3 linked regions of the Homo sapiens genome follow. The protein of the gene in region 2 purifies or fractionates together with the protein of the main gene of each other region. This does not show direct contact. Each region holds a gene or a part of one and is shown on either strand. Other genes may lie near its edges.

What was found.
Region 1: the proteins of ZC3H14 (region 2) and ZNF207 fractionate together in Homo sapiens (co-fractionation; one large-scale study listed by BioGRID). This does not show direct contact.
Region 3: the proteins of ZC3H14 (region 2) and PARP12 purify together in Homo sapiens (co-immunoprecipitation; one large-scale study listed by IntAct). This does not show direct contact.

The regions. Positions count from the first base shown.
Region 1 is NC_000017.11:32,370,657-32,374,156, reverse strand, and holds part of ZNF207 (BUB3-interacting and GLEBS motif-containing protein ZNF207), read right to left. Parts: 3' UTR 1-3,500. UniProt on the Homo sapiens protein: Kinetochore- and microtubule-binding protein that plays a key role in spindle assembly. ZNF207/BuGZ is mainly composed of disordered low-complexity regions and undergoes phase transition or coacervation to form temperature-dependent liquid droplets.
Region 2 is NC_000014.9:88,561,477-88,565,892, reverse strand, and holds the start of ZC3H14 (zinc finger CCCH domain-containing protein 14), read right to left. Parts: upstream 2,857-4,416; 5' UTR 2,760-2,856; coding exon 2,724-2,759; intron 2,547-2,723; exon of another isoform or gene 2,438-2,546; intron 2,243-2,437; coding exon 2,200-2,242; intron 1-2,199. UniProt on the Homo sapiens protein: RNA-binding protein involved in the biogenesis of circular RNAs (circRNAs), which are produced by back-splicing circularization of pre-mRNAs.
Region 3 is NC_000007.14:140,060,108-140,064,311, reverse strand, and holds the start of PARP12 (protein mono-ADP-ribosyltransferase PARP12), read left to right. Parts: upstream 1-1,360; 5' UTR 1,361-1,464; coding exon 1,465-1,790; intron 1,791-4,204.

The sequences.
Region 1 (3,500 bases), on a different chromosome or scaffold from region 2:
AGGCTGAGATGGGTGGATCACCTGAGGTCAGGAGTTTGAGACCAGCCTGGCCAACACGGCAAAACCCCATCCCTACTGAAAAATATTGAAAAAATAGCCAGATGTGGTGGCGGGAGCCTATAATCCCAGCTACTCGGGAGGCTGAGGCAGGAGAATCACTTGAATCCGGGAGGCAGAGGTTGCAGTGAACCGAGATCGCACCACTGCACTCCATCCTGGGTGATAAGAGTGAAACTCCGTCTCAAAAAAGAGAAGGCACATTTCAGTATCCAGTGGCATTTCCAATGATTAAACTTATCCTTGAGGTTAAATTTAATAGTTTATGGAGAAAATAAAACCAGTAAGATTTTCCTAGAAGTGAAAGTAAAAAACTTGAATGAAACATTTCTTGCCTCCAATCAAAAATATCAAATTTTGTCAATTTATTGAAGTTCAATATAGGAACACAAGCTTTACTGAAGCTGTTAATTATGTAACACACAGCAAATTACATAAAATTGCATATGAAATACTTATGTTTATTAACACCACAGTCAAACGTGAATATTAATATAGAGCCTTCTCTGCCAAAAGAGTATAAAAATCCTAAGTTTAATTAAATTTAGGGGCCTTCACCAAACTTGCTGCAAGTTTGGGGACATAAATATCCAACAGCCATAAAGCTGTGAAAGCCCCTATAAGGAATAAAATAAATCCCACTTGCCTCAGACTGAACAGGGCAACACTGAGACTCAGCCTCAGCCTGTCCTATGGCAGGGCTATAGGAAGAAGAAAATTTTAATTTTAGAAAAACAGTTCCCAATTAATTTAAAAGACATGCATTAAAATTTTTTTTTTTAAAAATCCCAATGATCAAGCAAGCAAAAGGAGCAGCTTTGTTTTTAACTATTGTCCACTACAATTCCACTCTGAGCCCGTACTTCTTTTTGTTGGGGAATCCCCCTCCCCAATTAATTAAGTTTAATTAAGGTGAGTCTAAGTTCAAAATGTAACTTAGTGGAATAGGAGTACAGTAGGAATATTTTATTCATACCTAATGGCAAATGTGTGAGACACTACTAAAATACTAAGTATTCAAATCAAGTAATTCCAGCAGCCACTCAAAAATTAATCCTTACCTGCTGTGGTCTTGTTAAACAGTATGAAAACTTATACAACAGAAACTAGTGCCAGACAAAATGTTTTCTTGTTTTTCTAAAAGGGGTGGATGTAAGGTAGAGCCAAAGTTGCCAGCCCTACTAACCTTACAGCTTCCTTAATTATGACAATCACAATGCCTGCCTGAATTATCAAGTCCCAAAAGTTGTCTTCTGTGAGGGCAGTTGGCATCCACTTTGACTCAACTTCATCTACTACTTAAGGAAGGTTGAGTCAGAGTTAATTATATGAATATAATTTGCTCCACTCATAATTCAACCACACTATGGACCCCAGAAGCATTTAGAAAAAAGGTATTTTCTAGAAGCTTAATTACGTTTGGATGCATGCAAAAATTACACTTCAAATATATTAAATGGGTACACCACCTCTGAGCCTATAGCTACAAACTCAGGAACTCATGAGCTTAAGTTTTATCTGCCAATGCCTAACACTTTCAATTAATTTTTAATTAGAATTCTATCCCATATTTAAAAGTTCCATTTTTGCCCATCAGACCTATACAGAGAGCAAAAAACCTTGCTACAAAGTATCAACCTTCTTTGCATAAAATGCAAATAAAGCTTCACATAATTTCTGAAACAGGTCTACTAACCCTATTGCAGTTTGTCAATAACCGTATACATGAAATTCCTGAGAATTTGGGAGAGCACCCCTTACTTAATTATTCTAAATTTAATCACAGCATTTTTTTTTTTTGAGACGGAGTCTCAATCTGTCGTCCAGGCTAGAGTGCAGTGGTGTGATCTCCGCTCACTGCAAGCTATGCCTCCCGGGTTCACGCCATTCTCCTGCCTCGGTCTCCAGAGTAGTTGGGACTACAGGCATCCGCAACTACGCCCAGCTAATTTTTTGTATTTTTAGTAGAAACGGGGTTTCACCGTGTTAGCCAGGATGGTCTCCATCTCCTGACCTCATGATCCACCCGCCTGGGCCTCCCAAAGTGCTGGGATTACAGGCGTGAGCCACTGCGCCCGGCCTATCACACCATTTTTATCTTAAAGACTTTCAACACAAGTTTTCCTTCAGCAGTATATTAAGTGTGCTGCCAAATCAAAGCAGCATGTATTAATTTTGAAACCATTTAGGTAAGCAGAGGTTCAGAGGGGAAAGTGGTTTGGGACTTGGCTGCTGGCAGAAAGAAATACATTACTGGCAAAATACCTGTTTTATTTTCAAACTATGAAAATTTTTGTACCACTATGGTACCACAAGCACAGGAGCCAAAATCATTGAAGCCAGATAATCAGATATTTTAATTTATTTTTTGACAGAGTCTCGCTCTGTTGCCCAGGCTGGAGTGAACATAGCTCACCGCAGCCTCGGAAGGAGGAAGAACCTCCTTCCTCAGCCTCTTGAGCAGCTGGGACCACAGACACACACTAACGCGCCTGGCTAATTTTTAAATGTTTTGTACAGATGGGGTTTTGCCATGTTGGCCAGGCTGGTCTCAAACTCCTGGACTCAAGCAATCCTCCCATCTCAGCCTTCCAGAGGGCTGGGATTACAGGCGTGAGCCACTGCACCCAGCCAATGTGAGTTAAAATAGCATTCAGCTTTATAATACTTGCAATGTTTTGCTTAAAGGTATGACTTTCATCTGTCACATAAATACGAACTCTTTTGTGATGGCTAAATCACTTTTCAATATATTTTCCTTCAAAGTTAAAGCCCTTTTTTCCATACAACTTCAGACTTCATGTGTTTTATCTATACCTTCACAGGAAAGTTATAAAGAAATGTTACCATTTTCTTAGAAGTCTTAACTTTATAATGAGAAAAACTCAACTTGAGTTCATTATATTAATACTTTGCATAGGTTATTTGATGCCTAAAAAATCATAAAACTACCCTGCAAAAGATCAGAAAAACAGATCCCAAAAAGGTCAACAAGAGCTATTATTTTAAGAGGTTGCAACACAAAATATTGAATAGCAGTCATCTCTACAGAAAAGCTCTCTGTAAGAACACAACATTCAAAATTTCCAAGGATAAATAAAAAGTTGCACAGTAAGGCTACCTAGGCTTAATAACAGAAGGTACTCAAATGAATAATGTAATCTTCCAGGAACATAATAAAAATTGCCAATTCATCTGTTAACCATCCCAACAGAGACACATTTAGATTCTCAGCATTACACTTAGAATAATATATAATAACCCATTAACAGCACAAGAAGCTATTACTGCATGCACCTAAGCTTCTAGAAGTTTGCACCTGAAAAGCTTCTGAGGTCCATGCAGTACTGAGTCTCAAAAATAATCAAAAGGAAATGAATGGGTCTGGCACTAGGCTCTAAACATCTCAGCAGGAAGGAAAAGTGTTAACATTTACATTTTAA
Region 2 (4,416 bases):
CCATCTCAAAAAAAAGAAAAAGAAAAATTTACTGCAAAGACTGGCCTTGTTTCATATTTTTATATATCTTGTTCTATGTGCTTATGACTGAAGAATATGAAAAAATCTGGTCTCACAGATATGCAGTTGAAAAAGGAGTATTCTGATAGTCTTTTCAGATAAGGTGGATATTCTTCTGTGACACTACACCAAAACTAAACAAGTGGTAGCTTATTAAATGTTAAAGCAACGTGGAATGTCAAATACGTCAATGACCTTTTTGAACTGTTGCACAAAAATCCACTGACCCACCCCAGAGTTTAAATAAATCTTTAATCCACTGCATAATTTTGTAATATTATGCATTGGTTATTTAGAAAAGATTGGTTCACTTAGCTACAAAAACCACTGACACGTTGATATATTTCATTATGCAGTATAAAATAATTATTTTTTAATATCGCCATTGAGTTGGCCGGATGCAGTGGCTGACACCTGTAATCCCAGCACTTTGGGAGGCTGAGGCACGCGAATCACAAGGTCAGGAGTTTGAGACCAGCCTGGCCAACATGGTGAAACCCTGTCTCTACTAAAAATACAAAAAATTAGCTGGGTGTAGTGGCAGATGCCTGTAATCCCAGCTACTCGGGAGGCTGAGGCAAAAGAATCGCTTGAACCCGGGAGGCAGAGCTTGCAGTGAGCCAAGATCACGCCACTGCACTCCAGCCTGGGCAACGAGTGAAATTCCATCTCAAAAAAAATAATAATAATAACAAATTTTTTTTAAATCACCATTTATTTAATCAGAAATTTTTTAAGTACTGGGAAGCTGTGAAATTCATGGAGGCAGGCTCAGATTTTCCAAAATTCTAATTTTCATTTGAAAGCTCACATGTGATTGGCAACAAAGACTATGGATTCTTTTCTTTGCTCACTTTCAAGTAAATATCTGCCAAATATCCTAGTGTATGTAACCAGTTTGTCAGTACTTTGAAGTTAAAAATGATGTTCCCTGAAAGAGGTGGCTAGCTTAGTTCTCAACTAAAATGATTTTCCTCAGAACAATCGTATTTCAGTATACAATAAAAATGTTTTATGAGCATTTCTATTTCCTCGCACTGAATACTAAGAAGATAAAAAATATTTTGTAAACCCTGGACTTCACATCTTCATCAATGACATTTTAAGTGTAATTGGCTCAAAAAGAAAAAAACTACAAGGGGGGAGTGATTTGAATATGATTTCATTATGGTGTTACTATGCTGACAAGTTTTATCAACCATTAGTTTTACACAATCCAAACACCACCACCACAGTGAAAAATAACAAATACCATCTTAGTATTAATATGAAAACAGTTTTGACTTCAGAGGCCCTTGGAGTCTCCCACACTTTGAGAACCACTGTCATTAGTGGTAGCTATTATTTTTATAGGAGGCACCAGCTTTGGGGGCAAACCATAAAACCTTGCTCAAGTAGGCAAAGCCTCAGTTTCCTTGTTTACACAGTCAAAGATACTGCCACTTACCTTCCAGGATTCTCGTAGGGATTATCCTGAGTTAATACATATACAATAGTTAAGCACAGTACCTGACCCAGAGTAAACACTCAAATTATAAAAGAATAAAGAGACGGAAAAAGCCTTACTGTTTCAGAGAGAGAGGGAAAACATAAAGAGATCGGAAAATAAAACTCACTGAACCATTACAGAAGCAAATGCCAGAAAGCATCAAACATTCACATCCAACATCAGAGTTCTAAAAACAAATGTCAAGAGGAAAGTAACAAGAATAGGAAACTTTAAACAGGCATGGTGGCTCACACCAGTAATCCCCGCACTCCCAGCACCTAGGGAGGCTAAGGTCAGATAATTGCTTGAGCCCAGGAGTTAAGACCAGCCTGGGCAACGTAGCGAGACCCGTCCCTAGAATTTAAAATGAGAGAGAGAGAGAATAGGAAAAACATAAAATAAAATTCGGTCAAACAGAGCCTTAACGGAGGAAACTAAATTTCAAAACACCATAACAGAAGGAGGTTTGGGAGAAAAAAAACAAGGTTGCAAAAAGATGATAAAGAAGTAACCAGGGAGTATAAGATTTGAAGAAGGTAGAAGGGAGTCTCTCCCAATGTCCAAAGTACGGTGAGAAATACGCATTCACTAAAATTCTATTAGCTGCAAACTCTAAATTCTGTAAGACTAACAACCAAAAAAACACTTACCAACATAAGCTCCTAATTCTTGTAATTTCCCCTTAATGGCACTCTGAGAGAAAAAGAGCAAACGTGCATGTGAGAAAGGCGGCTCTAGGAAAACAAGACCGGACTCTGCAGCGGCTGAGGCCACTTTGCTGGTGCGCGCACCTCGGATCCCCCGGGCGGGGGCTGGGAGGAGCCTCGCCTGCACCGCCCCCCACCCCGCACCCCACTCCAGCTCCAGCCCCAGCCCCGCGGCGCCCACCTCCCGCAGCGGATCCAAAGCGGCGCCGTGCGCCGCGGTGGTGGCTCCAGCCGGGCCTGCGCCTGTCCTTCCATTTCCCGGCGGCTACTTCAGCCGCAGCCACGCTCCGAGGCCGCAAATGTCCCCAGGGCCGAGGCGGCCTGGACGAGGAGGAGCCGCAGCCCGCCAGGAGCGTCCAGCGGAGGCCAGGCCGCGGCGTCCACCCGGGCCCACAGTCCCCGTTACTCCTGACAACCGCCCGCTCGCCGAGACCTGGCTTCCCACCCCCGACCGGCACGGGCCTCACCCGGATCTTGCGGCTGATCTCGGTGCCGATCTCCATGGCTCTGCGGCGTGCGGGAACTCAGCACTGCGCGGCGCTTGGCTTACCCGGAGGCTGCCGCGGACTCCTACCCCGCAGCCGGGACACCACCGCCTCCTCCTCCGTTCCGCCCCCGGCCGCGCACACGGCGTATCCCCGCCCCGGCCGGCACTGCGCGCCGGAGTGAACGCGCATGCGCCCGTGTCCGCGCCTGCGCACGCCTTCTACCCGCGAAACCTGTGCTCAGGCAAGGAGGGCGGCGGCGTGCGCGTGCGGGTGGTCTTGCAGCTCCGCCTCCCGGGCACCTCGGGGACCTTTCGTTAGTCTCTCTGCTGGCCCTCCGCTTATTCATTTTATTCTCTCTTGGATGGTAAGAATGAATTAAATGTGTAGCAGAAAGATCTTGGGCTGTGATATGAGACGCGAGTTCAAATCCAGCCCTCACTTACTGTCAGTATGGTATCGGTCCAGGTATTTCAACTTTTCTTACCTGTAAAATGGAGTCTGCCCATTAGAGGTTGCACTGCAATTACCCTTGAAGGGAAAATGGACTATCCAGAGCAACAGAGCCAATCCGTCAACTCTTTGACTCTGCAGTACACTGGCCCTCCTGGGTTTGGTTCTGCCTTCCTTCTTCCAGGGCCACCCGTGGCCTCTCCCCGAGACGAATCCCATCCTCCTGCTTCTCTGAACACCCTCCGTGGGACAACACTTTTGTTCTTAGGACTTAAGTTGTCAACTCTGTGCTGATAATGACCGAATTTTCCATCAGCCTTGAATTCTCACACAAACCCCACTCCCAAATTCTAAGTAACTACTCTTATTTTCTCCCAACTCAGCGCTTAGACAGAAGTCGCCTTCATCTCCCCTTCCTCCACTCAATAGGTTACTACTGTTGATTCCCCTATTTGTATCAATAGCCGAATTCTCCCTATCCCTGATCACAAAACCTGGGAAACAGAGGAAGCACAGAGAGGTCTCCTTTCTCCCTCATATCCACTAATTCCTGAGAGTGGTCTCTGTTATCCATTGCTGCATAACAGATGACCACAAATTTAGCAGCTTAAAACACAAACGTTTATCATCTCATGGTTTCCGTGGGTCAACCTCACTGGGTCCTCTGCTCAGGGTCTCACAAGGCTACAATCGTGTCAGGCAGGCTGTATTCTCATCTGGAGGCTTGACTGAGGAGGAATCTATGTTCAGGCTCATTCAGGTTGTTAGCAAGAATTCATTTCTGGCTGAGTGCGGTGGCTCATGCCTGTAATCCCAGCAGTTTGGGAGGCTTAGGCTGGCGGATCACTTGAGACCAGGAGTTCGTGACCAGCCTGGGCAACATGGCAAAAACATGTCTCTTCAAAAGTACAAAAAATTAGCTGGGCGTGGTGGCATGCACTTCTAGTCTCAGCTAGTTGGGAAGCCGAGAGGGGAGGATTGCTTGAGCCTGGGAGGCAGAGGTTGCAGTGAGCCAAGATCATGCCACTACAGCCTTGATGAGAGAGTGAGACCCTGTCTCAGGAAAAAAAAAAATAATTCATTTCCTTGTGGCTTTATGAGTAAGGACCCAGATTTTTTTCTGGCTATCATCTGGAAGCCACTCTCAAGTCCTAGAGGCTGCCCACAGTTCTTTGCCAAAGGGTTCACTAACATGTCTGTTCACTTACGCCAGTAAAAGCCA
Region 3 (4,204 bases), on a different chromosome or scaffold from region 2:
TCCCAAAGTGCTGGGATTACAGGCGTGAGCCACTGTGCCTGGCCTATAGTTAAGATTTTTATATTCATTTTTAGTGAATGTTATACCGTATACCGTAAGTACTCTCCCCCCACAATCCTTCTGCCTCTCATCTTCCCTTTTCCATTTTCCTAATACCTCCTACTGCCTCCTCTCAACTACCCTTGTGTGTTTCTTCATCTTTCTCCGTGCTTATTCAAAAATATCCTGCCACACACACACACACAGGCTTCTCTTTTTGTTATTCAGACATTTAAAAAAATTAATTCTTGATCATTCAACTTGATTATTTAGACATTTCTGTACAGCCATCTTTTCTCGTTTACCACCACATCATGGCTGTCTGCCCCTCTACATCCGCACACGGAGCTCTAACGCATGCTTGTTAAACAGCCTTCGTAATAGTCTTTAAAGATCAACCACACTGTTCCCACGTAACCCTACCTCCCAGGTAGGGTTCCCCCAGTAACACTTTCACACATAACTTATTTACTGTTCCTTTTACTTCTGGAAGATTCCGAGAGGAAAGATTGCTGGGTCAAAGGTCACACGCGTTTTCAATTTTAATAGCTATTCCTGGATTACCTCCTCAAAGGGCTCTAACAACTCGCATTGCTCTCAGCGTGTGAGAGGGTCCTTTGCTCTGAAGGGTCTTCTAAAATATTTGTTCAATCGTTACTTAGCAGGGGCTGGGAGTAACGGATTTTATTTTATTTTATTTTATTTTTTGAGACGGAGTCTCGCTCTGTCGCCCAGGCTGGAGTGCAGTCGCGCAATCTCGGCTCACGGATTTGCTCTTTTAAAGGACATACCCTTTTATGTTTAAATGAAGGAACTCATTGATGCACCGAGGCGAAAGGAACCTTTAATTAAGTGCGTCTTCTATGCGGAGTGATCGCTTTTGTCACTTGTTCGAGGGGTGAGAGCTCCCGTCAGTTGTCCCTGTTTCTGTGAGCCGTCTACGAAGCCCGGGCTTGGCCTGGGCGACGCTGAGCGGCTTTAACCGGCGGCGTCCAGCCGGCTCCGCCAGCGCTGCCGCCGCCCTCGAGGCTCCCTCTGACTGAAGGCGCGCTGAGCATCGCGGCATTAGGGGCTCCTGGTCCCTCAAACATCCAGGGAAGCCATTTTCAGGGACTAGGTACTGACCCCCGCGAGCCGCCACAGCCACAGCCCGCGCTCCGGGCCGAACGCCCGAGCTCAAGAGCTCCCGAGCTTCCGTCGGGCGGCGGCCTCACAGCTGGGGGCCCTGAGGCGGAAGGCGCAGCCGCTCAGCTGCGGACCGGGGGCGTGGCGAGGGCGCACAGGTTCTGTTTTTCGCCGGCCCGGGGCCGCTTTCGGTTTCGTTTCCCGCCGGCGTCTCCACCCTGCGAGAGCCGCCCGCCAGCCAGCGTCCGCCGCCGTCCGCGTCGCGCCACCCGCGGTCCGACGGGAGCAGGCCCAGCGGCCATGGCCCAGGCCGGCGTCGTCGGTGAGGTCACCCAGGTGCTGTGCGCGGCCGGGGGCGCCCTGGAGTTGCCCGAGCTGCGGCGCCGCTTGCGGATGGGCTTGAGCGCCGACGCGCTGGAGCGGCTGCTGCGGCAGCGTGGGCGCTTCGTGGTGGCGGTGCGGGCGGGCGGCGCAGCCGCGGCCCCGGAGCGCGTGGTGCTGGCCGCCTCGCCGCTGCGCCTGTGTCGCGCGCACCAGGGCTCCAAGCCGGGCTGCGTGGGGCTCTGCGCGCAGCTCCACCTCTGCAGGTTCATGGTCTACGGCGCCTGCAAGTTCCTGAGAGCCGGGTAAGGCGCCGCGCCGGGAGCGACGGCGGGCGGAGGTCCTGCGCGCCCTCACGCACTTCCAGCCCGCTTGGGGGTCCTACTTGAAGTTTGAGCAGACAATTCGGTGGCTCTGCCCTGACCTCGCACCGTCATTCACTAAAGCGAGCGTTTAATGAGCACCTGCGGAGTACCTGGCACAGTGCGAGGGACTCAGGGTCGAGTGGGGTCCTCTAGACGCCTGGGGGGAGAGAGTGATTTACATAGAGCATGGTAGTGCCGGGTGGAACACCCGGGTGTGGCCGTGTGGGGTGGGGAGGGAGGGAGGCGGCGGCTTAGGGGAACTCCACGACGCCGCGGGTCGCCCCTTGCCAGCTTTGAGGCCAGACAATGAAGGTTTTCTCTGCCCAGCAGCTGGTAGAGATCTTTAAACCCAGTTCAACCCTATTAATCTGCTTACAAACTGGAAAATGCAGACTCCCTGCCATCGCCCACAAGGTCCTGGGGCACTGGTCCCTGCCCACCCAGGACCCTTCTGTGACTGGAACACCCCCCCCCCCCCGGGCATTTCTGGGAGCCTGGGCATTTCTGGGAGTCTTTGCTCTGCCTGGAATGCCCTTCTTGCTCTTGGTTGGCCCTATTTGTTAATCCTTCAGGCCTCAACCTAAAGATCACATCCCATTTGAGGATTTTTCCTCCCCTTACTCTTGGTCACAGGGAACTGTTTATTTTCCTCATGGCACCCAGCTGCCAGTAGAATAGAAACTCCCTGAGGGCAGAGGCTCCAGCTGTCTCCCCAGCACTTAGCGTCCATGTTCTGTGCATAGCATGTGGCCAGTGGGATGTGTGGAAGGGATTGCTGAGGTTTATGCTAAAGAATTTGGGCCTCACCCTGGAGGTGATGGGGCGGGTAAAATGGCAGGAGAGAGCAACCATCAGGTTTGCGTTTTAGGAAGTCTAAGGTAGTGGTGTGGGTGCCAATTTAAGGGAGGATGTTGTGGGGGAACCACTGGGAAGCTAGTCATCAAGGAGAATTCCTTCCTCCCCTGCTCCCTCCTTTCTTGCTTGCTCCCTGTTTTGTGTGTGTGTGTGTATGTTTGTCTTAATAGAGTAGATATTTCTTGCTCATGTCAGGCCCAGTAGTGAGCATGGGGTGGGGGCCTTGATCCATACAGTCATTCAGGGATGCAGGCTGACTGACCTCCGCTCTGTGCCCCTCAGCACATGGCTCTTGAGGCCAGCCTAGGTTATCAAGTTCGAGGGGGCTGATCGAAAAGAGGGATGCATGGGAGGTTTTTGTGGGCCAGGTCTAGAAGTGGTGGATTTCCTTTCACCCACATCCCATTGACCAGAAGCTGTCTCGTGACCCTGTCTAGATGCAGGGTGACTGGGAAATGCCTCTAGGAAGCAGCTGTCTGGAAGTATCTAGATTAGAGCTTTCCAAGGGCTATGTGTGTGAGAAATTTGGGATAGCTGGTGACGGTGTGATGAGAGGATATGTGAGAGGTGACGACTCTTCAGTCTCTGTTCCTGCGGTGGCCTGGGTGTTGTTCACTGAGAGAGCAAGAGAGGGTTTTAGTTTGGAAGCATGCCCAGGAGGCAGCTGTTCAGGTCAGAAGCTTGGGAGGAAGGCCAGGGCCCCAATGCGCTGGGCTGGTTTGGGAGATATTGGGCGGTGTATGTTGTAGTTGCAGCCCCAGGAGTGGATCAGATCTGAGGTAGCGTCTGAGGCCTGAAAAGAGGCTGAGGGTGGAACTCTGGGGAAATCAGCCTTCAGGGATGAGGCAGTCCAGGGGAGAGCAGGGAACAACAGCCCACGAGGAGGAAGGCACACAGCAAATGGTGGCTGGATAGAGCCACTCATGGGGGTAACTGGTAGATCTGTTTCATGTTCATATTTGGTAAAATAAAGATGGCAGCCCTGTTCTTAAGCTAGTTCCCAAAATGTGGGGTCAGGTCTGACTTGTCTCGGAAATCTGTAGTGTGATATTTACTGGCTCAGATGACCTTGAGTTTTCTTCTTTCTTCAGTTTTCTCTTTTCCTTGTGGTTTACACAGGTGAGTTTCTTGAACCTTCCATTTCTGACTCACTTTAGGGAGAGTGGGTGTGGTTGGCTGCACTTTTCTGCTTCCCCTGTGACTCTGCTTGTCTTCCTGAACCGCAGGGTCAGTTCTTTTAGAAATAGCTCATCAGTCCTGCTGCAGAGCTGGTACGGAGTCCTGGGTGCCTGACTCTTAGTCCTCTACTCAGGAGGCATTGAGCCTGGTGGTCTAGGGCACAGTCCCAAGATCCAGCCCACCTTGTTTCAACCTGGGCTCTGCTCCTTGCTAGCTGATGGCTTCGGGCAAGTGACTTTACCTCCAGGTCTCAGTTCCCTCATCTGCAAAGTGGAGTTAATGATATTACTACCCTCACAGGCTGGTTGAGGACTGAATGA